Regions from separate parts of the Homo sapiens genome. Here all the other regions are linked to region 3. Evidence: fine-mapped expression QTL. A gene starts in region 3. Each other region holds a variant in brackets. All regions are shown on one strand. Distances are between the middles of the regions. Region 1 overlaps MCM9 (minichromosome maintenance 9 homologous recombination repair factor). Region 2 has its middle 10 kb from the start of FAM184A. Region 3 holds the start of MCM9 (minichromosome maintenance 9 homologous recombination repair factor). Region 4 overlaps FAM184A (family with sequence similarity 184 member A). Region 5 overlaps FAM184A (family with sequence similarity 184 member A). Region 6 holds the start of ASF1A (anti-silencing function 1A histone chaperone). Region 7 overlaps FAM184A (family with sequence similarity 184 member A).

Evidence for each region.
Region 1: its variant is fine-mapped to the expression of MCM9 in whole blood (INTERVAL, PIP 0.93).
Region 2: its variant is fine-mapped to the expression of MCM9 in neutrophils (BLUEPRINT, PIP 0.95).
Region 4: its variant is fine-mapped to the expression of MCM9 in thyroid (GTEx, PIP above 0.99).
Region 5: its variant is fine-mapped to the expression of MCM9 in whole blood (INTERVAL, PIP above 0.99).
Region 6: its variant is fine-mapped to the expression of MCM9 in whole blood (TOPMed, PIP above 0.99).
Region 7: its variant is fine-mapped to the expression of MCM9 in lymphoblastoid cells (TwinsUK, PIP 0.95).

The regions. Positions count from the first base shown.
Region 1 is chr6:118,872,617-118,876,684 of GRCh38, forward strand. The region is part of intron 8 of MCM9 (minichromosome maintenance 9 homologous recombination repair factor); the gene reads right to left. Among named protein-coding and RNA genes, the nearest start is that of ASF1A, 20 kb to the right of the region's middle. The variant G/A (reference allele first, on the strand shown) is at 2,006.
Region 2 is chr6:119,086,716-119,090,783 of GRCh38, forward strand. It overlaps a transcript of FAM184A not described here. Among named protein-coding and RNA genes, the nearest start is that of FAM184A, 10 kb to the left of the region's middle. RefSeq lists an enhancer at 3,477-3,978. The variant C/CTTTA (reference allele first, on the strand shown) is at 2,471.
Region 3 is chr6:118,932,646-118,936,713 of GRCh38, forward strand. MCM9 (minichromosome maintenance 9 homologous recombination repair factor) reads right to left here and starts at 2,514. Exons shown (of 14, transcript NM_017696.3): 1 at 2,246-2,514; 2 at 1-95. LOC124901389 (a long non-coding RNA gene) reads left to right here and starts at 2,270. Exons shown (of 2, transcript XR_007059729.1): 1 at 2,270-2,345. RefSeq lists silencers at 1,763-2,012, 2,263-2,692.
Region 4 is chr6:119,006,639-119,010,706 of GRCh38, forward strand. All of the region lies in intron 6 of FAM184A (family with sequence similarity 184 member A), which reads right to left. All of the region lies in intron 1 of LOC124901389 (a long non-coding RNA gene), which reads left to right. Among named protein-coding and RNA genes, the nearest start is that of MIR548B, 60 kb to the right of the region's middle. The variant C/T (reference allele first, on the strand shown) is at 1,755.
Region 5 is chr6:118,975,957-118,980,024 of GRCh38, forward strand. It overlaps FAM184A (family with sequence similarity 184 member A), which reads right to left. Exons shown (of 18, transcript NM_024581.6): 11 at 3,409-3,562; 12 at 1-88. The region is part of intron 1 of LOC124901389 (a long non-coding RNA gene); the gene reads left to right. Among named protein-coding and RNA genes, the nearest start is that of MCM9, 43 kb to the left of the region's middle. The variant C/G (reference allele first, on the strand shown) is at 2,462.
Region 6 is chr6:118,892,043-118,896,110 of GRCh38, forward strand. The region is part of intron 8 of MCM9 (minichromosome maintenance 9 homologous recombination repair factor); the gene reads right to left. It overlaps ASF1A (anti-silencing function 1A histone chaperone), which reads left to right and starts at 2,110. Exons shown (of 4, transcript NM_014034.3): 1 at 2,110-2,480. The coding sequence starts at 2,372. RefSeq lists silencers at 1,845-1,984, 2,775-3,304 and an enhancer at 2,305-2,394. The variant A/G (reference allele first, on the strand shown) is at 2,011.
Region 7 is chr6:118,982,507-118,986,574 of GRCh38, forward strand. All of the region lies in intron 9 of FAM184A (family with sequence similarity 184 member A), which reads right to left. The region is part of intron 1 of LOC124901389 (a long non-coding RNA gene); the gene reads left to right. Among named protein-coding and RNA genes, the nearest start is that of MCM9, 49 kb to the left of the region's middle. The variant T/TAA (reference allele first, on the strand shown) is at 1,643.

The DNA of each region.
Region 1 (4,068 bases), 60 kb before region 3:
CAATCTACCTCTACAGAAAAAAAAGTTTTTAAATAATTTTAAAAACCTAAAAAAAAACACACACACAACTTATCAAAAGTTGTAGGATACAGCAAAAGCACTTAGAGCGACATTAGTGCTACTGAATGAATTCACCAGAAAAGAAGGAAGATACAAAAATCAATAATCTAAGTTCTCATCTTAGGGAAAAAAAGGAAGGCCAAATGAAATACAAAGTAAGCAGAAAAAAAAATTTAATCAGAAGAGAAATCAGTGAAATTGAAAACCAGAGGCCAAGTGGAATGATTCACGCCTGTAATCTCAGCATTTTGCAGAGCTGAGGTGAGAGGATCTCTTGAGCTCGGAAGTTAGAGACCAGCCTGAGCAACAAAGTGAGACACCATCTCTACCAAAATTATTTTAAAAATTAGTCAGGTATGGTGGCACACACCTGTAGTGTCAGCTACTCAGGAGGCTGAGGTGAGAGGACCACTTGGGCCTGAGAGGTGCAGACTGCAATGAGCTGTGACTGCACCACTGAACTCCAGCCTAGGTAACACAGTGAGACAGGAAGGGAAGAAGGGAGGGGAGGGGAGAGGAGGGGAGGGGAGGGGAGGGAAAGGGAAAGGGAAGGGGAAAGGGAAAGGGAAGGGGAAAGGGAAGGGGAAAAGAGGAAGAAAAGAAAAGAAGAGAAAAGAGAAGAGAAGAAAGGAAGTCTACACAGAAAGCAATGACAATCAACAAAACCAAAAGCTGGTTTTTAGAAAAGATCAATAAAATTCATCGGCCTCTGGACAGGATAATGAAGACAAAAATAGAAGAGACATAAATTACAAATATTAGAAATGAAAGAACCTCACTACAGATCCCACGAACATTACAGCATAATAAAGAACATATAAACAAACAACTCTGCCCATAAACTTGATAACCTGGATGAAATGGACCAATTCTTAAAAAATGCAATCTGCCAAAACTTCAACCAGGAGAAGCAATCTGAATAGGCTTATATCTACTAATGATGTTGAATCAGTAATTAATAACCTTCCAAAACACAAAACACCAGGACCAGATGGGTTCACTGGTAAATTTTACCAAATATTTAAGGAAGAAATGACATGAATTCTCTACAATCTCTTTCATAATACAGAGGCAGAGGGAATGATTCCTAGCTCATTGTATGAGGCCAACATTACCTTAATACCACACCAGATAAAGACATTACAAGAAAACTGCAGTCCATATCTTTCATGAACATAGATGCCAGTATCTTTAACAAAATATTAGTAAATCTAGTCCACAATGCATAAAAAGAATTGTACACCATGAACAAGTGTGATTTATCCTAGGTATAATCACGTTAAAAAAATCAATTAAGGCTGGGGGTGGTGGCTCATGCCTATAATCCCAGCATTTTGGGAGCAAAGGTGGGCGGATTGCTTGAGCCCAGAAGTTCAAAGACCAGCCTGGGCAACATGGTGAAACCCCATCTCTACAAAAAATACAAAAATTAGATGGGCATGGTGGTGCATGCCTGTAGTCCTAGCTACTCAGGAGGCTGAGGTGGGAGGATCACTTGAACCTGGAAGGCAGAGGTTGCAGCGAGCCAAGACTGAGTCACTGCACTCCAGCCTGCACAACAGAATGAGACCCTGTCTCAAAAAAATAAAATAAAAAATCAATTAATATAATCATCAGGCCGTTGATAAAACGGCCTAACAAAGAAAAATCACAATATCAATAGATGCAGAAAAAGCATCTGACAAAATCCGACAGCCACTCATGATTAAACAACAACACAAAAAACTCTCAGAAAACTAAGAATAGAGGAGCAACTTCCTCAACTTTATAAAGACTCTCTACAAAAAATCTGCAGCTAACATCAAAGGTAATGGTAAGAAACTTGAAGCTTTCCCACCAAAATCAGGAACAAGGTAAAGATGTCCTTTCTCATCACTGCTTTTCAACTTTGTACTCCAAGTCTTAGCTAATACAATAAGATGAGAAAAGGAACAAAAAGTATACC[G/A]ACTGGGAAGGAAAAAATAAAATGCTCTTTGTTCGCAGATAATATAATCATCTATGTAGGATGTCTGAACAAACTGAGAAAAAAATACTCATGGAACTAATAAGTGATTATAGCAAGGTTGCAGGTTAATATGTAAAAGTCAATTGCTTTCCTATATATCAAGAATGAACAAGGTGATTTGAAATTAAAAATACATTACCTATTACCATTGGCCGGGCACAGTGGCTCACGCCTGTAATCCCAGCACTCTGGGAGGCTGAGGCGGGTGGATCACCTGAGGTCAGGAGTTCGAGACCAGCCTGGCCAACATAGTGAAACCCCGTTTCTATTAAAAATACAAAACCAGCTGGGCATGGTGGCAGGCACCTGTAATCCCAGCTTCTTGGGAGGCTGAGACAGGAGAATCGCTTGAACCCAGGAGGCAGAGGTTGCAGTGAGCCAAGATCGCGCCATTGCACTCCAGCCTGGGTGACAAGAGTGAAACTCCGTTTCAAAAACAAACAAACAAACAAAATTACCATTTACATTAGTCCCCCTCAAAATGAAATGGGTATAAATGAATGAAATACCTACAAGATTTACAAGAGGAAAAGTCTGATGTTATCAAAGAAGAACTACATAAATGAAAAGATATTCCATTTTCATGAATAGGAAGACTTCATATTGTCAAGATGTCAGTTCTTCTTAACTTGTTCTACAGATTCAACCCAAGCTAATCAAACTTCCAGCAAAAGCTGGGCGCAGTGGCTCACATCTGTAATCCTAGCATTTTGGGAAGCCAAAGCAGGCATATTGCTTGAGCAATATGTGTTTCAATAGTAGCCCAGAAACACAGGGAGACCCTGTCTCTACAAAATACCCAAAACTAGCCAGGCATGGTGGCATGTGTCTATGGTCCCAGCTACTCAAGAGACTGAGGTGGGAGCATCACTTGAGCCCAGGAGGTCAAGGCTGCAGTGAGCCATGTTCATACCACTGCACTCCAGCCTGGGCAACAGAGTGAGACCCTGTCTCAAAAAAATAATAATAATAATTAAAATAATAATAATAATAATAATAATGACATCTTTACACATCTTAGAATGACTGTAATCCAAAGAACTGACAACACCAAGTGATGGTGAGGATGTGGAGCAACAGGAATTGTCATTTATTGCTTCTGGGAATGCAAAATGGACAGCCACTTTGGAAGACAATTTGGCAGTTTCTAACAAAAGCAAACAGATCGTTACCATACAACCCAGCAGCTGTGCTCCATGGTGTTTACATAAGGCACTGGAAAGTTATATGCACATAAAAACCTGCTCACAGGTGTTTACAGAAGCTTTATTCATAATTGCCGAAACTTGGGGGCAACCATCTTGTCCTTCAGTAGGTAAATGGATAAACTGTAATACATCAGACAATAAAATATCATTCATTGTTAAACACAAATGAGCTATCAGAGCATGAAAAGACATGGAGTAACCTTAATAGCATATGTTAGTAAGTAAAAGAGGCCAATCTGAAAATACTACATACTGTATGATTCCAACTATATTACATTCTCGAAAAAGTAAAGCTATGGAGATATTTAAAAGATCAGTGGTTGCCAGGGGTTGAAGGGAAAGAGGGATGAGGGATGAACAGGCAGATCACAGAGGATTTGGGGGCAGTAAAACTATTTTGTACAATACCATAATGGTGGATATGTGTCATTATACATTTGCCAAAGCCCATGGAATGTACAACACTGAGTGAATCCTAATGTAAATAATAGAATTTGGGTAGCAATGATGTGTCATTGTTGGTTTATCGGTTGTAATGAATGTACCACTCTGAAACTAGCTGACACTAGAGAAGGTTGTATGCATGGCAGGGAGGGAGAATATAGGAACTATAGTTTCTGTTCAGCTTTGTTGTAAACCTAAAACTACTCTAAAAAACAAATTTTATTAATTAATAAGCAAAAACTGTTGTGACCCTGAGTTGGGCAAAGATTTCTTACATATGACATCAAAGGCACAGTACTCAAAGAAAAATTATAAGTTGATCCTCGCTGAAGTTAAAAATGTTTGTTCTTC
Region 2 (4,068 bases), 150 kb after region 3:
TCACGAGCCATTGGAGGGCTTTAAGCAGGAACATGAAATAATCGTATTTTCATTTTAGTTACATCATTTTTTGACTGTGGAAAATCGATTATGGGACAACTCTATAAACAAGGAGACTAGTTAGCAGGCTATTGCACTTATTCTGGTGAGAGATGATGAACCACTGACCTAAAATAAGGCAGTGAGAGTAGGAACAAAAAAGGATGGATGTGAAATATCCATAAGGTAAAACAGACAGGACATTGAGGCTGAGGAACAGAGAGCTGTCAAGTTTGCCTGATTTTTTCCAAGGAGGGGAGGCTCCTAGCACACGATACATGGTTATAAAATTAAGTAAAATTTACAAAAATAACATTCTTTGTATTTTTTAGGCCTTCCCAAATTGTGTATGTTTCAGGCCCCAGAAAACCTAGATTAACCCCAGGCAGTAGCAGTTAAGGTTAAGAATTAAAATTAGGATTGAGATGTGAGCTCAACAGTTAATGGACCAAAAGCATAGGCAGCAAAAGAAAAAACAGATAATTTGAACTTCATCAAGATAAAAACTTTTATGCGTCAAAAGATACTAACAAGAGAGTGAAAAGGTAGCCCATGAAATATGAGAAAACATTTGCAGACCATGCTTCTGATAAAGGATTAATATCCAGAGCATATAAAGAATTTCTAAAACTCAACACAAAAAGCAAATAACCCAATTAAAATATGGACAAAGGACTTGAATTGTTATTTTTCTAAAGAAGATATACAGATGGCTAATAAACACATAAAAAGATGGTCAAAACATCACTAATTATAAATGCAAATCAAAGCCACAATGAGATACCACTTCACACCCATTAGAATGGCTGCTATCAAAAAAACAAAACAAACCCAAACAGAAAAATAACAAGTGGTACATGGAGAAATTGGGATCCCTGTGGTTGAAATTGCTGGTTGAAATGTGAAATGGTACAGCCACTGTGGAAAACAGTATGCTGGTTCCTCAGAAAATTGACAGAATTACTGTATGATTCAGAAATTTCACCTCTAAGTATATACCCAAAATAATTGAAAGCAAAGACTTGAAAAGATAATTTGTACACCGATTGTCACAGCAGCATTATTCACAGAAGCCAAAAGATGGAAGCAGCCCAAATGTGTATTGATGGATAAATATGGATATACAGAATGTGGTATATACAACAGAATGTTATTCAATCTTAAAAAGAATGACACATGGTCCATAAATGAAACTTAAAGATATTACATTAAGTGAAATAAGCCAGTTACAAAAGGACAAATACCATATGATGTTTTACTTATATGAAGTAGCTAGAACACTCAAATTCATAGAGACAGAAAGTAGAATGGTGGTTTCCAGGGGCTAGAAGGAGAAGGGAATGGAGAATTATTGTTTAATGGGTATAGGGTTTCAACTGGGGAAGATGAAAAAGGTCCAGAAATGAATGGTGGTGATGGTTGTACAACAGTGTGCATCTACTTAATGCACTAAATATACACTTAAAAATGGTTAAAATGCTAAATTTTATGTTATTTATATTTTGCCACAATTAAGAAAAGATTCATCGATGAAAAGTACTCTTGCTACTTATGGGAAGTGCATTCCAGTGAACAGACAATCAGAGAATGCTGTTCTATCAATCAATAAACATTTATTCACTGCTTTCCTCATGGAGATGAAATAGACATTTCCTATCCAAGGTCATGGTTAGCTAAAGAGGACGTCTAAATATAAGATTTGAAAGAAAGAGGTAGAGGAAATGTTCTTCTTTCTTCTTTTTTCTATTCTTTCTTCCCATTTTGGCCAGAAGAATCATAGAGACCAAGTTAGGCAGTCAATGGAAAATGATACTAAATATCTACAAAAGCACCTGTACTAAAGATCTACAAAAACTTCTTCGGGGTTGGCCAGGTGATCTCAAAGGTACTTTTCAGGTCTTTTATTTGCATCTCAATGTTATGCCTCTTAGGAACATTCAGTATTTGAATGGGACTCAATCTAAGGCCATAGAGCAAGGTATAAGGGACTCAGAATCACTATAGACTGTGTACAAGCAACTGAACTCCAATGGAATCAATAATCATACTAGCTTTTTGTAAGACTTCACACAAATAAGGAAAACATTTTGAGTTAAACATTTTCTAAATGACAACTCTTCTCTTGGTGCAAGTTTCCATGTATAATGAAAAGAGAATCAGAATCTTGGTTGGTATTCTGGGTCTCATGTTGCCACTAAGCCACCTCTTTTCTTCATTTGTAAAATGAGGAGATTGGACTAAATGATCTTGAGTATTTCTTATATCTCTCTCATGTTACATGTTGAATTATTTAATATTTTCTATTATTTATTTATTTTAGACAGGATCTTTCTCTGTCACCCAGGCAGGAACTCTTGGGCTCAAGCAATCTTCCCACCCTCGGCCTCCCAAATAGCTAACACCTATTTTTTTTTTTTAATTATCTCTCTCT[C/CTTTA]TTTATTTATTTATTTATTTATTTTTTTATTTTTTTGAGACAGAGTCTCACTCTGTCACCGAGGCTGGAGTGCAGTGGCTTGATCTTGGCTCACTGCAACCTCCACCTCCCAGGTTCAAGCGATTCTCCTGTCATAGCCTCCCAAGTAGCTGGGATTACAGGCATCTGCCACCACACCTGGCTATTTTTTTTTGTATTTTCGTAGAGACGGGTTTCAACTGGTCTCAAACTCCTGACGTCAAATGATCTGCCTGACTTGGCCTCCCAAAATGCTGGGAATATATACTTTTTAATTCTTGTAGAGATGGGATCTTGCTACATTGCCCAGGCTGGTCCTGAACTCCTGGTCTCGAGTAATCCTCTTGCCTCAACCTCCCAAAGCACTGGGATTACAGGTGTGAGCCACCATGCCCAGCCATTATTTCATATTTTTAGAACAGAATTTTGTTGTATTTGTATGGATATACCACATATCAATCATGCTCCAACTCTCACTTCCACCTCCTAACACACCCAAAGCATGGTACACAAAATAAGCCTAAATAAGGTGGTTCTTGTTTCTTTAGATAAGTGGTTAATCTAGATGGCTGCATATTGGTAAACATCGTTATAAAAGAGTTTGACTATGATTTGTTGGTTTCTTGCTATGTGCTTCTTTCTCTTTTTTCCTTATTTTTGTTTCTTCCCCATGAATTCAGAAAACTCATCTCTATCATCAACTGATAATGATATTGAAAACCTTCTAAAATGTTTGATACATAATACATGCACAATAAATGTTTATTTCCAATTTTTAGTTAACTTCATTTTCTCAACCAACACTATCATTAGCTTTTTCTCTAACAACACAGCCAACCCTTTCTATGAATATCACAATCAACCAGAAGCCAACTGGTTTATCCATCTACTTGGCTTCCTTTGCAAGCAGGGACTGAATAAGTTTACTTGATAGGTGATCTTGAAAAGCAAGAATATGAGAGAGATAAGGAAAAGCCATTGAAGGACACATTGTTGAGTTGGTTACCACTTTGGTCAATTGGGACTCAATCTCTGAAGAATCTTGTAAAATGAATCTCAGAATTTTCTCTAGCAAAGACGAAAGGCTAACACATTTATCTGCTGTCTCCTTTCACTCACTGATCGAGGATGGCTGCCAGGGGAATTAACATCTCTGTGTGTCTGGTTATTCAATGTGAGCTTAGTGAACTCCTGTGGCTTTGGAGAGAGTGGGAGTCAGGAAGGCAGAGAGATCCAGCAGGTGCTTGAGGGAAAACTGTGGCATGCATAGGAACTGTCCAACACCTTTGCAGCTGAAATCAAAAGAAGTGGCACAAGACATCAAAAGTATCTCCTACAATCTATCCCTTACCTTTCAGATCCATTTTTGCTCTATATGAAATTCATTCTGTCACCAACTCTTTAAGGTCATAGCTAGCTTCTGATTGTTAAAAGGACTCCAGATGAGACTTAGTGTAGCAAGCAAATGTCCCTTGCTGCAACTGCTCAAAGGGCCATAACTGATATTCATCAGGTCCCACTCAGATTTCCACCCATTCCAGATTTTTTTTACCCTTGGTGAGCACTTCAGCTAATCTAAG
Region 3 (4,068 bases):
AACAGACTGTCCTTAGAAATTCATACTTGGAAGTGAATTTGTTTCCTTCTTTCTCTTTCTTACCGTAGGAAATCTACTGGGTTCTGCAGAAACAGCTGTCAACAATGCAAAGAAAACAGATAAACATAGGAAGGTGAAAAAACACTGAGTCTTCAAATAATAAAAAAGTATTATTGAAAATAAATACAGCATATACCATTACTTTATCTCATTCCCCTGGCACTCTATTAAAAAGTATGTATCTACAGATAAAAAGCACCTATCCCCATTCTAGTTTCATGTATACAGACGGATAACAAATTACATATGTATAAACCCAATTCAATGTCCATTTCCTAATATCTATCATGTACAAGGCACTATGCTGGCAAATGAAAAGTATAGTAAAAGGTTCTCTATGTCCTCAGAAATCCAAGGGGCAAATAAAACGAAACAGTGCACTACCAGTGGTCAAAAATGCAATATGAATAGGAGTCAAAGGAGAGGGAGGTTAAATTTAAATGAGGTGACGATCTCAGAAGTAGCACTGGACAGTTAGAAACCAGCTGTCCAAATAAGAAACACTTATTTGGGGCCGGGCGCAGTGGCTCACGCCTGTAATCCCAGCACTTTGGGAGGCCGAGGCAGGTGGATCACGAGGTCAGGAGATCGAGACCATCCTGGCTAACACGGTGAAATCCCGTTCTCTACTAAAAAAAAATACAAAAAAAATTAGCTGGGCGTGGTGGCAGGTGCCTGAAGTCCCAGCTACTCAGGAGGCTGAGGCAGGAGAATGGCGTGAACCCGGGAGGCGGAGCTTGCAGTGAGCCGAGACCACGCCACTGCACTCCAGCCCGGGCACAGAGCGAGACTCCGCCTCAAAAAAAAAAAAAAAGAGAGAAACACTTATTTCGTTTGGAAAGAGATTGAGGACTGGAGAAGAGGTGTACTTAAATTTGACTTACTTCATTTGTCCAACATTTATTGTACTGGACTCTACAAATACGAATATTAAAGGAGACTGCTATAAAGTTCACAGTTTATCATCCTAAGTACGTGTTATACACGCTATTTGCTATATTTTGCTTTCTCTGAGAACCTACTATTCCGCAAGGTGTGAAACGTTTAAGAAGTACATATAGCAGTTAGGTCAAGAATCCTGACCACTATAGGAGGCCAGAGTGAGAGTAAGAATGAGTAAATGTATATCCAAAACAATGAGTGGAAATAAATTACGGCCTCCACGGTAATTTGTTTTTGGTTAAGCAATATAAATTCAGCCAAGTGTAAAGCAGAAAAAGCACTTGGGAAGGAATATCTCCACAATGTGGACTTTGCCCAAAAAAAAAAAAAAAAAAATCTGGACTCCCAACAGTGGCTACAAGAGAATCACTATGATTCTATTAAAGCATATTAAGTTTAGAGCCACAAATTTAGCAATTTGAAAAACAGCTCCACACAAGGCAGGAAAAGGGCAGCAGCAGAATTCAACGTTCAAATTAAGGTCAGATTAAATTTTGCCTAGTTAGGCTAGCATTTCTATGGTTATATGGACCATCGTTATTCATTCCCTTTCAACATCTATGCAAAACTGACTAATCAACTGTGTTATCAGCAGTTTGCTAAATCAATAAACGTACCTACTACCCACCCAGATAGACACTGGAGGGACTTTTTGTTTTGAGAAGGGTCATTTCACAACTTTCAAGTTCTCTTTCCTTTTCTTATTGAATATTTGGGGTCAAAATAAAATCATTTGCTTTACTTTGTCCTCTTGACCACAGCGAAGCGTCGAAAAGAAGACAGGAGAGTGCCTAACTGCACTGGCATCCCCCAGCTGTCTCCGGGAATCGCGGCAGCCCCGCCCCGCCCGCCTGCACCTGCCGGGAGCCCCGCCCCCTCCGCGCGGGCTGGCGGGACGCGCGCCCTCGGCCCCGCCCCACTCCCTCCGCCCCTCTCACTGCGGGGGCGCGCCATTTCGCGCCTCCGGGCCGCTCGGCTGCCCCAGGGGCGCCTGGCAAACGTGGAGTCGCTCGGTTTTGGAGGCATGCTTTCCAAACTTTCTAATTCACAGGGTCTTTGCACGCAGCCCCTGCCCCACAACACCTTGGCAGTCTCTGAGACTTCTGGGGCTCTTCTCCCGGGCAGCTCCCGTGCCTGTCCGGTCCCGGAGTTGAATAGTTTTTGAAGTAATGAGACGGGAACGAGACTTGGGACGAACTGGAGAAAAACATAACCGCGAAAGGAGGAGGCGGCTATCACTTACTGGCTGTGTCAGAAGTCGCCGGGAACGCGTTGCTCCCGAGGCCGAAGGGCCCAGAGAGCTCCAGCCAGGCAGCGGGTTCGTCTCCGGCGCAAGAAGGCTGGTGAGGCGGAGTGCGCGCGTGCACGTGGCCGCTCGAGGCGCCACCGGCCGCGGGGACGCGCGGGCTGTGTCGGGCGGCCTAGCGCCTGCGGCTCTGCCGGGCCTGCGCTCTCGACCGACGCCGGGCCGCGCACCGCCTCAACTTCCCTGCCCCGGCGGCTCTTCCGGATGGAGACGAGGCAGCGGGGCGGGGTGGAGCGGAGCGGGCGGATTGGGGCGGAGCCAGGAGGGTCCCGGGCGGGGAGAGGGGCGGGACCCGAGCAGTGACCTCAGGCTAAGTGGCCAGAGCAGGGTTGTGCGGCGGCTCAGATCGGATCTTAGGGTTTGTTTTTTGTCTGTCCAAGGAATTTGCCTAACCCAAGGCCACAGAGGATCTCTTCTGTGTTTTCTGACACAAGTTTTAGAATTTTAGGTTTTATATTGAGGTCTGTGATCCAATTAGAGCTAATTTTTGTCTGTGGTGCAAAGTATGGATCTTAGGTCATTTTTTTGTATGTGAATAGTGTCATTTGTTTAGAGAGCTTTCTTTTTCTCACTGAATAGCTTTTGCACCTATGTTTAAAATCAGTTGTCCCTAAAGCATCAGTTGTGGGTCTATTCTTAGACTTTCTATTCTGTTCCGACAATTTATTATATTTCTCTCTACAAAAATACCACATTGTCTTGATTCCTGTAGATTCGTAAGAGTCTTAAAATCAGATCGTGTTTGGCCTCCAATTTTTTGTTATTTTTCAAAAATGTTCTGGCTCATCTAGTCCCTTGGGTTTTCATATGAATGTTAAAATCAGCTTGTCACTTTAAAAAGTTGGGATTGTGATTGGTTACATTTCGTCTATAGATCCATGTAAGAATAATTTACATGTTAACAATATTTAGTAATGACCCTTAAAGTAAGCCTCTTCATTTATTTAGGTGTTATTTCACTCAGCAAATGTTTTGATCTTTTGTCAGGTCTAGTCTTATATAGTCCATTTTCACAGTGCTAATAAAGACATACCTGGGACTGAGTAATTTATAAAGGAAAGACGTTTAATTGACTTACAGTTCAGCATGGCTGGGGAGACTTCAGGAAACTTAAAATCATGGCAGAAGCGGGAGCAAACCTCCTTCTTCACAGGGCTGCAGGAAGGAGAAGTGAGGAGCAAGGAGGGAAAAGCCCCTTAGAAAACCATCAGATCTTGTGATACCTCACTCACTATCAGAGAACAGCATGGGAATAACCACCCCCATGATTCAGTTACCTCCCACCGGGTCCCTCCCACAACACCTGGGGATTATGGTAACTACAGTTCAAGATGAGGTTTGGGCAGGGACACAGCCAAACCATATCACCCTATGTCAGATTTATCCATAAATCTAAGGATGGGGGAAAAATATACTTCTTGATATTATGTAAATGACATTTTAAATTTTCAGTTGTTCTTTGATAGTGTCTTAGTCTGTGTTGCTAAAAAGGAATGCCTGAGACTGAATAATTTACAAATAAAAGAGGTTTATTTGGCTCACACTTCTGCAGGCTGCTTCTGGTGAGGGCTTCAGGCTGCTTCCACTCAGTGAAGGGGAGGCTGCCTGTGCAGATCACATGGCCAGAAGAGAAGCAAGAGAAAGGGGAGGTAGTGGTCAGGCTCTTTTTAACAATCAGCTCTGGAGGCAACTAACAGAATGAGAACTCATTATGCAATGGCAGCACTAAGTTTTCCTGAAGGATCTGCCCCTGTGACCCA
Region 4 (4,068 bases), 74 kb after region 3:
TTCATTGTAATAGAATAGCAAAATAGTCTTACAATTTCTTCCTAAAGTTTTTTATTTAGTTGTAATTTTACTGAATGGATGATTTCCTGATTAATTTGGAAAAAGCACTCAAATAACCATGACAGCTTTCTTCTGCTGTGTTTTGAAAAGACTTTCACATTTAAGATCTTCTTTTTTCATGACAACCATGTAAAGGAATAGATATACCTTTGTTTAACAAAGAGAATTCCTAGTTCCACCATATAATAAAATACCTATAAGAAGCTGAAGCAAGATAAAGATTATATAAAAGAGTAAAACAAAATTTTAGATAAAAATATCTTAAAAACCATCCTTTAAAATTTAATCACATATTTCATTTGAGTCCATATCTCCTGCTATTTGCAAAGGGGATAAATTTAGGTCAATATTGATAAGCTGGTAAATGTATTATAAACTAGAGTAAGTTATGATTCCTGTGTTTCCATACAAAATTTCTCATTAAATCTTTAAGAGTTGAATTTATACACTCGAAATTAGAAGCTAATAGATAATTGCTGATTAAGCATATCCCTACCATAAAGTTATGAATACTAAAATACATACATGAAATATTTCAAATTATTTAGGACAATGCTATAAAGTAAAAACCGCATTCTTATAAAATGGCCAAGCCTATGAAATTTCTACAAAAGTTGAAATTGGTAATTTAAAAATAATACCTATTTTTCCTTGTAAATACAGACATTACAAAAAAAAAATACAAAAATTCTCCTTCAATCCTTCTCTGACCCACAATTCCCTCCCCAAGTGCACGGCCTTCCTGTCCCCTCTCTATGCAGGTATATGCTCTGCAATACTGGTGGTGGTAGTATTTTATCTTGGTGGTGTCTCTAAAGGAATGCTAATCTCATAAGATAATTAGGGGAGCTACACATCTTTTCTGTGCTCTGAAATATTTTCACAGCAAAAGAATTACCTGTTTTTTAAAAGTTTGGTAAAATTCTTCCATTAAATAAATTATAAAGAATAGTATTCTAGGGCTGGGCGCGGTGGCTTATGCCTGTAATCCCAGCACTTTGGGAGGCCGAGGCAGGCTGATCACCTGAGGTCAGGAGTTCAAGACCAGCCTGGCCAACATGGCGAAACCCCGTCTCTACTAAAAATACAAAAAGTAGCCGGGTGTGGTGGCGCGCGACTGTAATCCCAGCTACCTGAGAGGCTGAGGCAGGGGAATTGCTTGCACCTGGGAGGCAGAGGTTGCAGTGAGCGAGATTGTGCCACTGCATTCCAGCCTGGCAACAGAGCAAGACTCTGCCTCAAGAAAAAAAAAAAACAGTATTCTAGTAACAATGTAAAGAATTCAAAGAGAAGGTCTATTAAGGCAATTACAAATCTAGAGATAGAATATTTAAATAGGCAAAAACTTCAAACTTCTGCAAAGTTAAATGTAATAAAATATAAAAAGCAAATAAGTGTTGAACATAACTGATCAGTTTGTTTTCTTAAATACAATAAAAATGGATACATGGGGAAAACACCTATTGTCTCCCAATAACAAAATCTCCTTATGGCATTTGGGGCATCTACTCGCCTTCTCTATCGGTCCATGTGGTCTTAGTAAGCGCTCAACTTAAACTCCAGAATGAAGTGCTTCATTGAAACGTAAACCAATAAGGTCATCTCATTTTGTTTGTATGTGGATTGGTTCAGGGGCAGGCACATGGTTTAAGCTTATCTAGTCACAGTGATCTCAGGACTTTAAAAGGAGCTCC[C/T]AGAAAAGGTTTTTTGCCAGCTCCACGTATACCTCAGGGAATATGTGATTGAAGCATGAAGTCAACACAAGAACAAACCCAATTTAAGAGAAAAAGAAAAGCTGGGTTCCATTGTCACAATTTCAGTTCTGAATCTAGTCTTGCCTGATGCTAACATTATCCTTGGACTTTACAGTCACATGAGTCAATAAATTTTTTTTTCTTTAGGCTAGTTTGAGGTAGGATTTCTGTCATTTGCAATAGAAATAAATACTCAGATTCTCCATATTAATGTACAAACTGAGGGAATACAGTAAGTAGAAACCTCCTCCCTGAAATATCCGTCTACCTCTATTTGTTCTTCTCTAATCCACTCTCCTTGCAACACTACAGTGAGTTTTTTATAAATTACAAATATGGACACGAGCATAAGCCCCATCCACTGCACAAGCATCCACATATTTATACTTATCATCTTTCAACTGTTTTTCACTGCCCTTAGGATAACTTTCAAAATCTTTCATGGGGCTTACAAGACCTCCACAACATAGCCCCTGCTGAAATCTCCAACCTCAGCATGGCATCCCTTCTTCTTGGTCTTTATATACTAATTGAGAGAAAGAGTAGGGTTAAGAATTGAGTTCTGAAAGCACACTACCTGAAATGGAATTCTGGCTTTACCTACTTATTATGTGCTGACTTGGGCAAGTTATTTTAACTTTTCTATGCTTTAGTAACTGGTACCTACTGCACAGGGTTGCTGTGAGGATTAAAGGAGAGAACAGTATAAAGAGGCTATATAAAACAAAGTCTGGGACTCAGTAAGCACTAAATAAATATTATTATAGTTGCTATCACACTCCGTTTTTTCTGGTGATATGGTTTGGCTGTGTCCCCACCCAAATCTCATCTTGAATTGTAACTCCCACAATTCCCATATGTTGAGGGAGGAACCCAGTAGGAGGTGACTGAATTATGGGGTGGGTCTTTCCTGCGCTGTTCTTGTGATAGTGAATGAGTCTCATGAGATCTGATGGTTTTTAAAAAATGGGAGTTTCTCTGCACAAGCTCTCTCTTTGCCTGCTGCCATCCATGTAAGATGTGACTTGCTCCTCCTTGTCTTCCACCATGTTCGTGAGGCCTCCCTAGCCATGTGGAACTGTGAGTCCAATTAAACCTCTTTCTTTTGTAAATTAACCAGTCTTAGGTATGTCTTTATCAGCAGCATGAAACAGACTAATACCACTGGTATTCTTACAATTCCTAGAAATTTCTCATGCCTCAGAGCGTTTGCATAAGCTTTCCTAAATTTATTATTTTGACGAGCCCTTGTTAATTACTTACCACCCTTTGTAATATGCCTCAGACTTGTGTTTACTTGTTTTTGTGTCTGTCTGTCCATAGTAGTAGGGACCATGTCTGACTGACTTATCACTGAAACCGCAGTGTGTAACAGTGCTTTGGTACCTAATAGGCATTCCATATTTATTAAATAAATGAATGAGTCACTTACAGAAAAACTTCGTATATACTTACTAGCAATTAAGAATAAAATCTCTTTAACATCTCAGAATGAAAGTATTTAACTCCTAGAAGGACCCTAAATGCCTTCACTTTCTTGACCTTGTATTGTACCAAGGCAGCTGCTAGGCCATGTGTGCCTCTAAGCAGGAAAAAGGCAATACCCCTCAGTGTGGAAGCAGCCCCAGAACATGGAAAGAGAAGCAAACAAAACTTGTGTGAACTGGGAGAAGACTCCCTTTCTTCCAGGCAGCAGACTTCAGAGAAAATTTAAGTTTTTCTATACTTCTTCTACTATAAACAGTGCTGAAATTTTGTCAACAATCCGTAGTTATCTGCTTAGGTTAAATACACAAAAAAATGAAACTGTTGAGTTAAAGGACATGCCTGTCTTTAAGGCTTTCATATGTGCTGATAAATCCCTTTCGAGGAAAATTATACAATTTTGAATCCCCATCAGCAGTTTCTGAGTGCTTATTTCTTTATCGTTATTAACACTGCATGGTCTCAATTTTTTTATCATTGTTAATTTTATGGTGATGGAATGGCATCTCATTGATTTCATTTCCAGTTCTTAAATTATACAAATTATTTTTTCCTGCTTATTTTTAGCTTGTAAAAAGATAATCTGGGTGTCTGTATTTTTCTTATTGTTTTGTAAATACTCTTAAAAGTGTTAAAGACATGAACTCTTCATTGGTCAATTTGTCAGTCTCTTCATCTCTCCCAGTTTTTCCTCTTTTTAAATTTTGCTTATGGTGTGTTTTGATATAAAGAAGTTTTAGCTTTAACTGTACAAATATTCCATGTTTCA
Region 5 (4,068 bases), 43 kb after region 3:
TTAGCAGCTGCCAATTCTTGATGATGATTATGCCGTAACAAATCAATTGCAGCTGCATGTTGATGGTTGAGTTCTGAGCGCAAGGAAGCTGGAATTGCAAGGCAAAAATACATTTGGCACATTTAAAAAATATTATCAATACTTTAGATAAAAATTATAGAAGTAAAAAATTATTTCAAAAATTAGAACACTTGTGTATGTCCATTAAATTAATAGATTATAAACTATGACAAATTTAAATATTACAGACTACAATATACTATCATGAATTTAAAGTTAATGTAGCTTTGATGAGGATATAAAATATTTCAAATGTTTAAGCGGATCAAGGTATTTTTATACATGCTTTCAGTATGCAGGTAAAGTGCTAATGGAGATGAAGTATTTTTAATTCGTCTCTTTCACTATTAGGATAATAAAATTTGGTCAAGCACGGGGGCTCATGCCTATAATCCCAGCACTTTGGGAGGCCGAGGTGGGTGGATCACCTGAGGTCAGGAGTTCGAGACCAGCCTGATCAACATGGTGAAACCCCGTCTCTACTAAAAATACAAAAAATTAGCCAGGCATGGTGGTAGGTTCCTGTAATCTTAGCTACTCAGAAGACTGACACAGGAGAATTGCGTGAACCTGGGAGGCAGAGGTTGCAATGAGCCGAGATCACGCCATTGCACTCCAGCCTGGGCAACAGAGTGAGACTCCATCTCAAAAAAAAAAAAAAGAATGAAATTTTAGAGTTTAATGGTACCATAACAAATATTTAGGAGGCAACTTCTCACCCAAATAAGAATTCTTCAAAAATATCCCTAAAGGAGCCTGGCTGGTCAATGTTCTCATGATATTGAAAAATGTTCAATATCATGAGCCACTAGGAAAATGCAAATTAAAACCAGAATGAGTTATCACACATTCCTATCAGAAAGGATGAAATATAATGACAACATCAAATGTTGGTGAGGATGTGAGCAAAATTTATATGATGCTAGTAGGGATGGAAAATGGTACAATCACTCTAGAAAATGTTTGGCAGTTTGTTACAAAACTACATATGCAGCTGCCATATGACCCAGCAACCGCACTCCTAGGCACTTATCCCAGAGAAATGAAACTTATGTTTATATGAAATTTGTACGTGAATGTTTATAGCAGCTTTATTTGTAACAGCTAAGAACTAAAAGCTCAGGTGATCTTTAACGGGCAAAGGACAACAAACTACGGTGGATCAAAACCACTGAATACTACTTGGCAATAAAAAGAAACAAACTGTTGATACACACAATAACCTAGATGACTTCAGATAATTATGCCGAGTGAAAAAAGGCCAACCTCTACATGTTAAATATTGTTGGGTGTGGTGGTTCACACCTGTAATCCCAGCACTTTGGGAGGCCGAGACCCGTAGATCACTTGAGGCCTGGAGTTTGAGACCAGCTTGGGCAACATGGTGAAACCCTGCCTACAAAAATTACAAAAATTAGCTGGGTGTGGCAGCACACACTTATAGTCCCAGCTACTTAGGAGGCTGAGGCAGGAGGATTGCTTGAACCCGGGAGGTGGAGGTTGCAGTGAGCTGATAGCACACCACTGCATTCTTAACCTGGGCAACAGAGTGAGACCCTATCCCTTCTCCCCAAAAAGGTTAAATATTGTATGATTTCATTTATAAAATTAGAGCATTCTTAACCTGACAAAATCATAGAAATGAACAGGGTAATGGTTGCCAGGTGTTATAGGAGGGGAGGACTGGGAATATAGGTGTGGCAATAAATGAACAACATGAGTCATCTTCATGGTAATGGGAATGTTCTGAATCTTGACAGAATCTTCGTCATTGTACTGGTTGTGATACTGTACCATAGTTCTGCAAGATGTTACCACTGGAGGAACTAGTTAAAGAGATCTCTGTAGTATTTCTTAAAACTGCATGTGAATCTACAATTATTTCAAAATAAAAGTTTTTTTAAAGACCCAAAACTCTTTTTGTCAACAAAGACATATTTTATTTATTTATTTATTTATTTTTTGAGACAGAGTTTTGCTCTTGTTGCCCAGGCTGGAATGCAATGGTGTGATCTTGGCTCACTGCAAACTCGACCTTCCAGATTCAAGCGATTCTCCCGCCTCAGCCTCCCAAGTAGCTAGGATTACAGGCATGCGCCACCACGCCTGGCTAATTCTGTATTTTTAGTAGAGATGCAGTTTCACCATGTTGGTCAGGCTGATCTCAAAATCCCGCCCTCAGGTGATCCACCTGCCTCAGCCTCCCAAAGTACTGGGATTAGAGGTGTGAGCCACCACACCCGGCCAACAAAGACATATTTGAATCATGTTTAGTGGAGCATGTTTCAATGGACTAAACAACAATAGTTCCAACACTGGGACTGTTTTTGCCTGCCCTGACAAAGCTGTGGAATGTGTATTCCCTTTTGGCCACATTTCTATAAAGGCGACCTCTACATTT[C/G]ACTACAATTCCTGTGCAAAGACAGGGCAGTAGTTCATTTTTTAATTCTCCTTGCTCAGCAATCTCTAGCACATGAAAAGGCTTTTCACAAATCTTTGACAAATGTCTAAATTTAATCTGATTTTCATGCTAGCAGTCATAGTGGGTTTTAAAGGAGGAAGAGGAGAGCTTTAACGACTTGGTCTGGGACTCCCAGCAACATTATCGATGAGAAACAGGGTCAGACGGCTTTCCCTTTGAGGCCCAAAATATTGATAACACTTCAGTCTTCTTTGCTCCAAATTCCTACTTGGAAAGAGTGTGCCACTGAAGTATGACAACATGTTAAAAATATTAGCATAATTTGGAATAAAGCCAAACAGAAGGAAAATGAGATGGTAAGAATAAAAAGTTATTGAATGACATAAAAAACAAAACCCAAAACAAATCTTTAAATACATATCCAGTTTTTCTTCAAAACTCAACCTACCTCCTTATAAAAAGTAATGATGTGAACACCTCATAGGTAGAAATCTCAAAGAAATATATACCTCAACAGAAGAGTCAGACCTAATACTGACTTTTCCCATTAAAACAAAATCTTGAAGTGTAAAAAACCATATGACCATGCAGTCTAAGGACATGTGGCTCCATGTCCTTTCTACTGAGCAGTGATTGATTTCTGGGACACCTCAATGTCCTGAGTCCACTTAGTCCAAAAAGGACAGATTAGAGTACCAGTGGTGTTGCTTGCATAGCTGGAGTACAGAGAGAGCTGAGGGGAATTCACTTTACTGTTTGTGTCCTGCCTATTCATGTGGTAACTTCAAATAAAATATGCAGTACACTTAGATATTCATTTTGACGTTTCAAAATTTTAAAATAAAACTTGGTGATTTTATGTTGAATTTAAAAAATGTTAAAAATGTACATATGAATATGACAAGATTGTAATCTTTTCAAAATACCAAGCATAGCCTTTCCTTCATCTTCTAATTCAAACCGAAGAGTCTGAAGTTCCTGTTCCATTTCTATCCGGAAGCCCTCCATTGACTCTCTGTGTGCATCTTTTAGTGATTGAAGCTCTGCAGAATGCTTCTGTTGTAAATGATTTTCAAGAGCCTAGAACAAGACAAATTCAAATTATTATGCTAGAATATAGGAAGGAAAATGCAAACAAAATAGAAAACAGTTACTAAAACTCAGTTATTATTTAAGAAATACAAAATGTTTTAGGTTCATTTTCAAGAAAACTAGACATAAGATAATCAACATTAGAAAAAATAATTAGGGTCATTTCAGTAGAATAAAGAAATCATCATGAAACCAATTTGATTCAATGTATTTTGTCTATATATTGAACAGGCTGGGCACAGTGGCTCACCCTTGTAATCCCAGCAGTTTGGGAGGACAAGGTGGAAGGATTGCTTGAGCCCCAGAATTCAAGACCAGCCTGGGCAACATAGCGAGACCCTGTTTCTACAAAAAAAAAAAAATTAAAAAATTAGCCAGGCATGGTGGTGTGCGCCTATAGTCCCAGCTATTCAGGAGGCTGAGGTGGAAAAATCACGAGTCTAGGAAGTCGAGACTGCAGTGAGCCATGATTGTGCTGCTGCACCTCAGCCTGG
Region 6 (4,068 bases), 41 kb before region 3:
TTCTTTTTTTCCTACAGCATACCAGTTAAATTAGAAATATGCCAGGACATATCTGAGGAATCCTTTCGGTCTCTCCTGGAGTAAGGTAGTATCAATGGTGAGGAAACTATTGAACAAAGTGCTCAACGACCCTTTAGTATTTCTGACAAGCAATAATACAAGAGTTAAGACAGGAGAAGCCTGGAGCTAATTCTTGCAGCTTCCAGTGAAATGTTGGGGAGTTTTTTCTTCTTAAATACTGTTGCATATGATGTGTTAAACAAAAAATTTTAAAGAAAATAAGCCAAATTAGTGGCATTCAGGTAGATCTTCTCAGTCCTTCATGCTGCACATCCACCAAAAGTGAGTTTTACAACTAGTCTCATTGTAACACTTACGGTCAGACTGCAAAATGCACGTGATTTTAACAAGCATAAAATGTCGTTTTCATGAGACTGACTAGACTCTCCTCTTAAGAGTACCTGTAATAATCAGACAACTGCATACACCAGTCTCACAGGAGTTTTAATCTTCAAATGGTCATTTTATCTTACATATACAGAGTGTCTTACAGCATACAGCAATTTCCACTTTATCTGCTAGTGTTAGGACCAGCACTAATAAGAATGAAGAGTATGTTGTTTATCAGCCACAAAAATCTGTGTCTATCACCATGGTTTGACTCTTAATACTCTAATGTCACAAACAACTGGCTTGAAGAAGTGTTTTTTGGTAGGTCCTATATCTAACTGTTCAATCCACTGACAAAAAAAGGGAACTCTTCCCCACTCTAACCGGTTTTCCTAAATGTACGAGGGGTTGACATTAGCTGTCTCACATTAACTTTCAAAAGACCATCAGATGAAAACGTTTCATCAAAAGCCACCTACTTAAGTATGAACAATGACCAAAGAATGACAAATCAAAATTCTGGGCACTATACTAAGAGAAAACTCTTCCAGAACACATACTTAAGAATTAATTTTCTCTCTGAATTTGGCCAAGTTTGGTGGTTTCATTCACAACATTTAAGGAAAAAAATGATGGTTTATGGCTAGCAGATAATAAAACAAACCTTTATACCACTTACTAAATAGAAACGGTTTAGGCTCACAAATATGTTAAAGCTTTCTCTTTCCCCGCAATGGTAGCCAAGCAGCATAAACGAATCAACATTTCCTCAGTTCAGACCTCAACTGGTTACAGGCAAGCAAGGGCTCCTCAGAATTTGCTTTACTAACGGTTTAGGTCAGAAATTTTTTTGAAGATCAAATGTCTTGCTATGTCTTTGTGTTCTTTTTCCCATCTCTATTACGTTTGTTGCCCTGTTGGTCTCCTAACACTTCCATTTTCTCCTTTTATGTTCCTGCTATGCTCTCCAAATGGCAGTAACCTGAAGTATAACTGATCACACCTCTTGTGATTTTTTTTTATTCTAGGACTTCCCAGATCTGGACTCCGAAGAAGACGCCCAGGTGCAAGCCCAAAGGTTACCTATTTAAATTTTCCAAGCACAGTGTGTAGAAAATCATTCCTCGCCCTTCATTTTGTGTTGCTTAACGGCGCTGTCGTGCCTAAACGTAGATACTGGCCAAGAGCTAGATTTCCAAAATGGCTTTGCTCCTTTCGAGCTGACATCGGTCTATAACATGCAATTTATTTCCCCTGCAGCCAATCTTTCTCTCTACTCCAAATACTACCCGATACGCAGAAAGCTGAACCTAACCCAGTGTAAACACCGACTCTCATCTGCTAAATTCAGCAAGGCCGGCAAAGCTGTTGCACTGATGTAAAAAGAGCGTTAAATCAAAAAACCAAAAAAACAAAAAAAAAAACAAAAAAACGCCAAAACACCCACACGAAGCCAACTGGAGGGGCGGGCGTCGGCCGGATCGCGCCCTCCCGCCGCAGCCACGCCTCCCCGCCGCGGCCACGCCCCCTCCGCCCCTCTCCGCGCCGCCGCCGGCGGCCTCCGCGCGGGCCTCCCAGCCCTTATTCCACTCACTTTGTTCTCCGCCTTTGTCCTAATCC[A/G]CACCAGCAGGTGGAGCCGCAGTTAAAGTTTCCGAGTCCATTCCGGGAGCGGGAGCCCATCTTGCTGGCTGCCGAGGCCCTCGCTGGAGGAGGAGGGTCAGAACTCGGGTGCAGCCAATCGAGGGCAACGCTGCTACTTATCAGAGCAGAATGGGCTGTAGTTTAGTGAAATAGGAAAGCTGCAAAACACTGTGGAGTGCTCCCGTGTAAATAAAAAGAGGAAAAAAGTTTCTCAAGTCGCCGCTGCACGACGTCTGGCCGGCGCTGGAGCGGGGGTCTGCGCTCTCCCGAGCGGCCGCGCGCTGGACTTTATTGTGCCGCAACCAGCCCCAGTTCCCATTGTTTGTGTTTTTTTCAAAATATGGCAAAGGTTCAGGTGAACAATGTAGTGGTGCTGGATAACCCTTCTCCTTTCTACAACCCGTTCCAGTTCGAGATCACCTTCGAGTGCATCGAGGACCTGTCTGAAGGTGAGTGCGGCGCCCGTGCGCCCGGGCTGTCAGTTGCGGGCTGCAGACGTTGAAAGTTTCCCGGGCCGGGCCTCGCGCTGGGCGGCTGTGTTCGGCGCCTGGCGGCCGCGGGCTGCTCTGCGGAGGGAAACTTGAAGTTGATGGACGACGGCCGCCGAGGCGCGCGCGGCTTTCCGCCGCAGCCCAGGCGCCTGCCGGGCTCAACTTGCGAGGAACTTGTTTGAGCGGAGGAGCGGAGGTAGCCATGTTGTCAGCTTTGTCTGCGGGCGGGCAGCTCGGAGACCCGCACTCGCTCCCGCTGCGCCGCCTGAGGTCGCGCCGGGCTGGCTCCGCGCCGCCAACAGCCTCCGCGACCCTCCGGGCCCGAGCACGGAGGCTGGGAAGGGAGAGGCTGTGCGTGTGGTCGCGCCGGCGAGTTCGGAGCGGAGCCATCTTACCCCGAGTCGAGAATTGGGCCAGCGACCCCGGCGCACGGCGCCTCCTCTTGCCCCGCCGCCCGCCTGCCCCCGGCGAAAGGCAGGCAGGCACTCTCGAGAGCTCACGGTGGAGTCGCCGCACTCTCCGGGCTGGCCATGCCTGGCCGCTTCGGGGAGGAGAGCGAGGCTGTCCTCGCGCTGATTTCTGGCTTCCTCGACCAACCAGCGGGGGAGGCGGGCGCAGGCTCGGCCCCTCCGCGCCGCGGGCTGGGCGCCGGCGCTCCCCGGGGGCCGTGGGTCCTGTTCGGCCGGTCCTCCTCGGCCGGCGCCCGGGATGCGCCGGGATGCTGGCGCGCAGGCTCCCCAACCAACGTGGACTCCTTTCCCCTAATGACGAAAAGCTAATTTCAGGAAGAGAAATAGAGCTGAGGTAGGAAGTTACATTTAACCTAAAAGCAGAAATAAGATACTTAAATAATTTCCAGGACTTAATCTCTGCCTTATAAATAGTCTGAAGGAAGACTTTCTTCAAGACCGTGTTGAAATCTAAAATAACTCCACATCCAAATACAGAACACACCCTAAACATAAAACACAAACGTAGGCTAGGAAATTAAGGTCAACTCCTCATGTCAGTCCAAGAATTCTTGGTATTTTTTCTACATATATTTTAAGGTCTTAAAAATACGTATTTTTAATATCTTTAGTAATAAATATTTAGAAAGCTAAAACGACAATTATCTTTGCTTTAATTATCTTTTACTAAAGTAATTCAGTGCTTCATTTGCCAGTTTTGAAGGGGAAATAGTTTAACTTCATCGATGAGGGACATACTTTGAACTAGAAGTATATGTAAAAAATGCATTGAAGATGATTTAGGTAATCGTGGCATGTAAAACTTTTCATTTTAAAAACTAGTTTTTAATCTCTAAAATGTATATATCATATGTAAGGTTAATTTTAATTATAAAACAATATATATTCATTGTAATAAACTTTTAGAAAGTTGTACAGGCATATATAAAGTTAACAGTTCTCTGTACTCAGTGCCTTGCCCTATCTCCTTTCGGTAATCACAATTATTACTTTAACATGTGCCCCCGTTTTTTTTTTTTTTTTAAACCTATATAGAGCATAAATGCACATACATATATAGGGCAAATTTTGAAAGA
Region 7 (4,068 bases), 50 kb after region 3:
CATTCTGCTCACCAAGCTGTCTGCCCTGGTACAGATCTGTGTCCATCCAAAAAGAATGGACATGTTTTTCTGCTTTGCACAAAGGTGCCATATAGGCTAGCAGTGGCCCTGGATCCCATCCTCAAATTTAGTGTGTACTTCAATTAGTAGGAAACCAATCAGCTCACAGTGGTGTTTCTTATTTTCTGCAATACCTACTTCAAAATTTGCTGAATCGACAGACCTCTCATACGTTAATTTGACTCACGTTTGACCTATTAACAGATGAAACTTATGAAGAAATGCAATATTTAAAGTGAATGACTGGAAGTACCACAGTGCATAATAGTTACATATTTAAAATCTACAGAGTTTTAAATTTCTCCAGCTAAAATAAAATACACTTAAATATTTTACATTGTAATATACTTTACCTTGAAAGAACTCCAAAATAGTACTTTCCATCTTAGGATATGTGATTAATCTTTGTATCTACACTCAAGAAAATAATATAAACTATGTGCAGAAAGATATGATCATGCAATTTAGTGTTCAAACATACTTAGATATTTTGTATTCTTAACTTTGAAAGCACATCAAAATAATATTAAGGCCATCGAAAATCTTTGAATTCATGCTCAAGACAGTAATGTGAATTATATGCAGAAAGCCTTAATCATGCAATGCAATATCAAAATTTATTTTGTTCTTTTTAAAAACAAGTTAGCAGAATTGCAATAAATAGCTTTTATTCAGCATGAAAAGTACATGGCACTTTAAAAGACAATGAGCAAAGTAATGTAAAGTGAATTAATTTTTATAGCTATAATTTAAACAGCTGAGTTTAATATAATCAATAGAAATACATATTAATGTAAAACTTTAACTCAAAAGATAAAAAACCTCTGCTTTAAAAGGTTTAGGCAATTTTGGTAAGTATTTTTATTACAGAATTATAGAATATCTAGAAAGGCTTGTGTTGAATAAAGAATGAGAACAAGTAGTTGCTTCAAACTATATATTATATTCAAATTATGTAGTGCACGGTATTAGTTTCTATACATTCGTTAAAATTTAAAAAATTCTATTTCTTATTTTGTTTAAATAAACCAAAATATTTTATTTCAGAAAATAATTTAATCTTTAGTTTTTAAATTCTTAGCATAGCAATTTAGATATGAAATATATTCTACTGGTTGATAGGTGCCAGACATTTTAGAGACAATTTTAAAGGTCAAACTGCACTGATAGTAATTGCCACCTCCTGTCTCTACCATTTAAAAAATGATTGTCTTTTTGAAAATAAAGTTTTACAGTCTTTTTGAAAATGGAATATTAAAGTTTTATAAAAATTTCAAAAAGAAAAAATTAAAAATATATGGGCCGGGCACGGTTGCTCATGCCTGTAATCCCTGCATTTTAGGAGGCCGAGACGGGTGGATCACCAGAGGTCAGGCATTTGAGACCGGCCTGGCCAACATGATGAAACCCTGTCTCTACTAAAAATACAAAAAATTAGCCGGGAGTGGTGGCGGGCGCCTGTAATCCCAGCTACTCGGGAGGCTGAGGCAGGAGAATCACTTGAACCCGGGAGGCAGAGGTTGCAGTGAGCCGAGATCGCAGCACTACACTCCAACCTGGGCAATGATAACGAAACTCCATT[T/TAA]AAAAAAAAAATATATATATATATATATATTTATATATATATTTATATTTATATATATTTATATTTATATATATTTGTATATTTATATTTATATATATTTATATATATGGCTCACTGCAGCCTCAACCACCTGGGCTCAAGTGATTCTCCCACCTCAGCCTCCTAAGTAGCTGGGACCGCAGACATGCACCAACTGATTTTATATTATTTCTAGAGATGAGGTATCACTCCACTGCCCAGGCTGGTCTTGAACTCCTGGGCTCAAGCGATCCTCCTGCCTCAGTGTCTAAAAGTGCTGGGATTACAGGCATGAGCCACTGTGCCCAGCCTACTTTTTACAGACCAGTTTCACAAAGACTCTGTACCTCTATAATGGTGTTTGTGGAAGAACTCTCTCAAAACAAAAAGTGAAACATCAAATCTGAGGTACTGGGTATGACAGAATGTCAATATGAGACATGTCATTAATTATCTACATCTTACCTACAACCTTTGGTTTTTGATGCAATATCGGTGTTTTTTCTTCAAAAACCATTGAGCCTTGTTACAAAAGTGAAAGAATACAGAAAGTATACAAATGATGTGTTCTCCAAATAAAGCATGTCTTGAGATAGTAAACGTAATCTGTGATTCTCAAACCTGGCTGTGTATCAGAATCATCTCTGCAGATTTTCATAAAGACAGTTGCCTGTGCCCTGATCCCTTGAGATTCTGATTTAGCAGGTCTGGAATTGGGCCCAGGCTGCCTAAGATATTTTTATTCCTATTTATCAAAGTAAAAAGTGGTTCGTTATGAAAATTTTAAAAATACAGGAACATATAAATAAAAGGAAAAGTCTCCTTCATTCCCTTTCCTCACTTAATCCCTAAGGGTAACTGGTGTTAATATTTTGGTATGCCTTACTGCAGACTGTAATGGCTTAGGTCTCTCTTGATATAATTCACCGTTTTGTTTTCTTTTGCTTTCTTACCTAGATCATGTGTAAATGGCTAGATGATTTTACCAAATGTAGAGATATATCTGATAAAATGCTGGCTATGCCTTATATACAAAAGTTACAAAGGCTCCAGGGCACACCTCAAAAGATCAGTGCTTAATGTCCATAGCAGCTGAAACAGAGACACCTGGGGCAGCTGATGGGGACAGACATCCTGTAAGTATCACATAGAGAAACAAACACCACTTCAAATGTGAAACCATGAGAGTGTCCTGACCTGCAGATGTGGATGAGGTGGTTTTCACACACTCAACTTTATATATCTTCCAAGATGAGTACGCCAAGGGATTTAATGATGTTTAATAATTTTTCCAGTAGAGGGGCCAGCCAGTTTGTGTTTTTGTAGTTTTTTCCTTCCCTTCAAAGTGGCATTTATAAGGTACTCACGATATTCAGATATGACCCATTCCTTTTAATAACCACATAGACTTCCTAGGGCTGGCACTGTCCCTCACTTCTACAACAGCTGTTCTCCCTCCTTCCTTTCTTCCCAGTTGGCTGCCTGGGTTTATTCAGGGATTAAATGGAAATCCCTGGAAGGTAAGCCCCTCTCGTAGCACCTACAGATGAATTATGACTGGGACAAGAAAGTAATCTAATTCTAAAGTATTAACTCCAATCCTTTCAAATATATAAAACATTAAAAACTGCTAGCCTATCAGTCTGAGCAGATCTCAGGAAAAAAACTGCTAACCTAGGCTTAGTAGAGGACAGTAGGAATAACTTATTATTATGCCAATGACTTAACGAAAATGGTCATGTAAAATGTTTAAAGGTGCTCAAATATTTTAATTATATGATTTATTTTTCTTCTTTAATCACTAATGTGCTATTACTGAGGAGGCTAGTTAAGAAAAGTAAATTTGGCCTGGCGCGGTGGCTCATGCCTGTAATCCCAGCACTTTGGGAGGCCGAAGCGGGCGGATCACGAGGTCAGGAGATCGAGACCATCCTGGCTAACACGGTGAAACCCCGTCTCTACTAAATATACAAAAAATTAGCCGGGTGTGGCAGCGGGCGCCTGTAGTCCCAGCTACTTGGGAGGCTGAGGCAGGAGAATGGTGTGAACCCGGGAGGCAGAGCTTGCAGTGAGCCGAGATTGCGCCACTGCACTCCAGCCTGGGCGACAGAGCGAGACTCCGTCTCCGAAAAAAAAAAAAATTTGTGGAATATGTCCCCAATCATCCTCTTATTATTAACTAAAACTAATTAGAAAGTTATCTATGAAGGACAGATGTATCAATAACAGTCACTTGTTTTTGAATGTGCTAAGCACTGAATTCTTGTATGGAAAGCTGGGGTACACACCATGTACAGAGGGAGTGGGCAGGTGCTCATCCTGCAGAGCACGGCACTCTGACAAAGTCATGTTTTGCTGTGGATGATGACAGAGTAAAAAGGTGATCCTCAATGACTATAATGTTATAA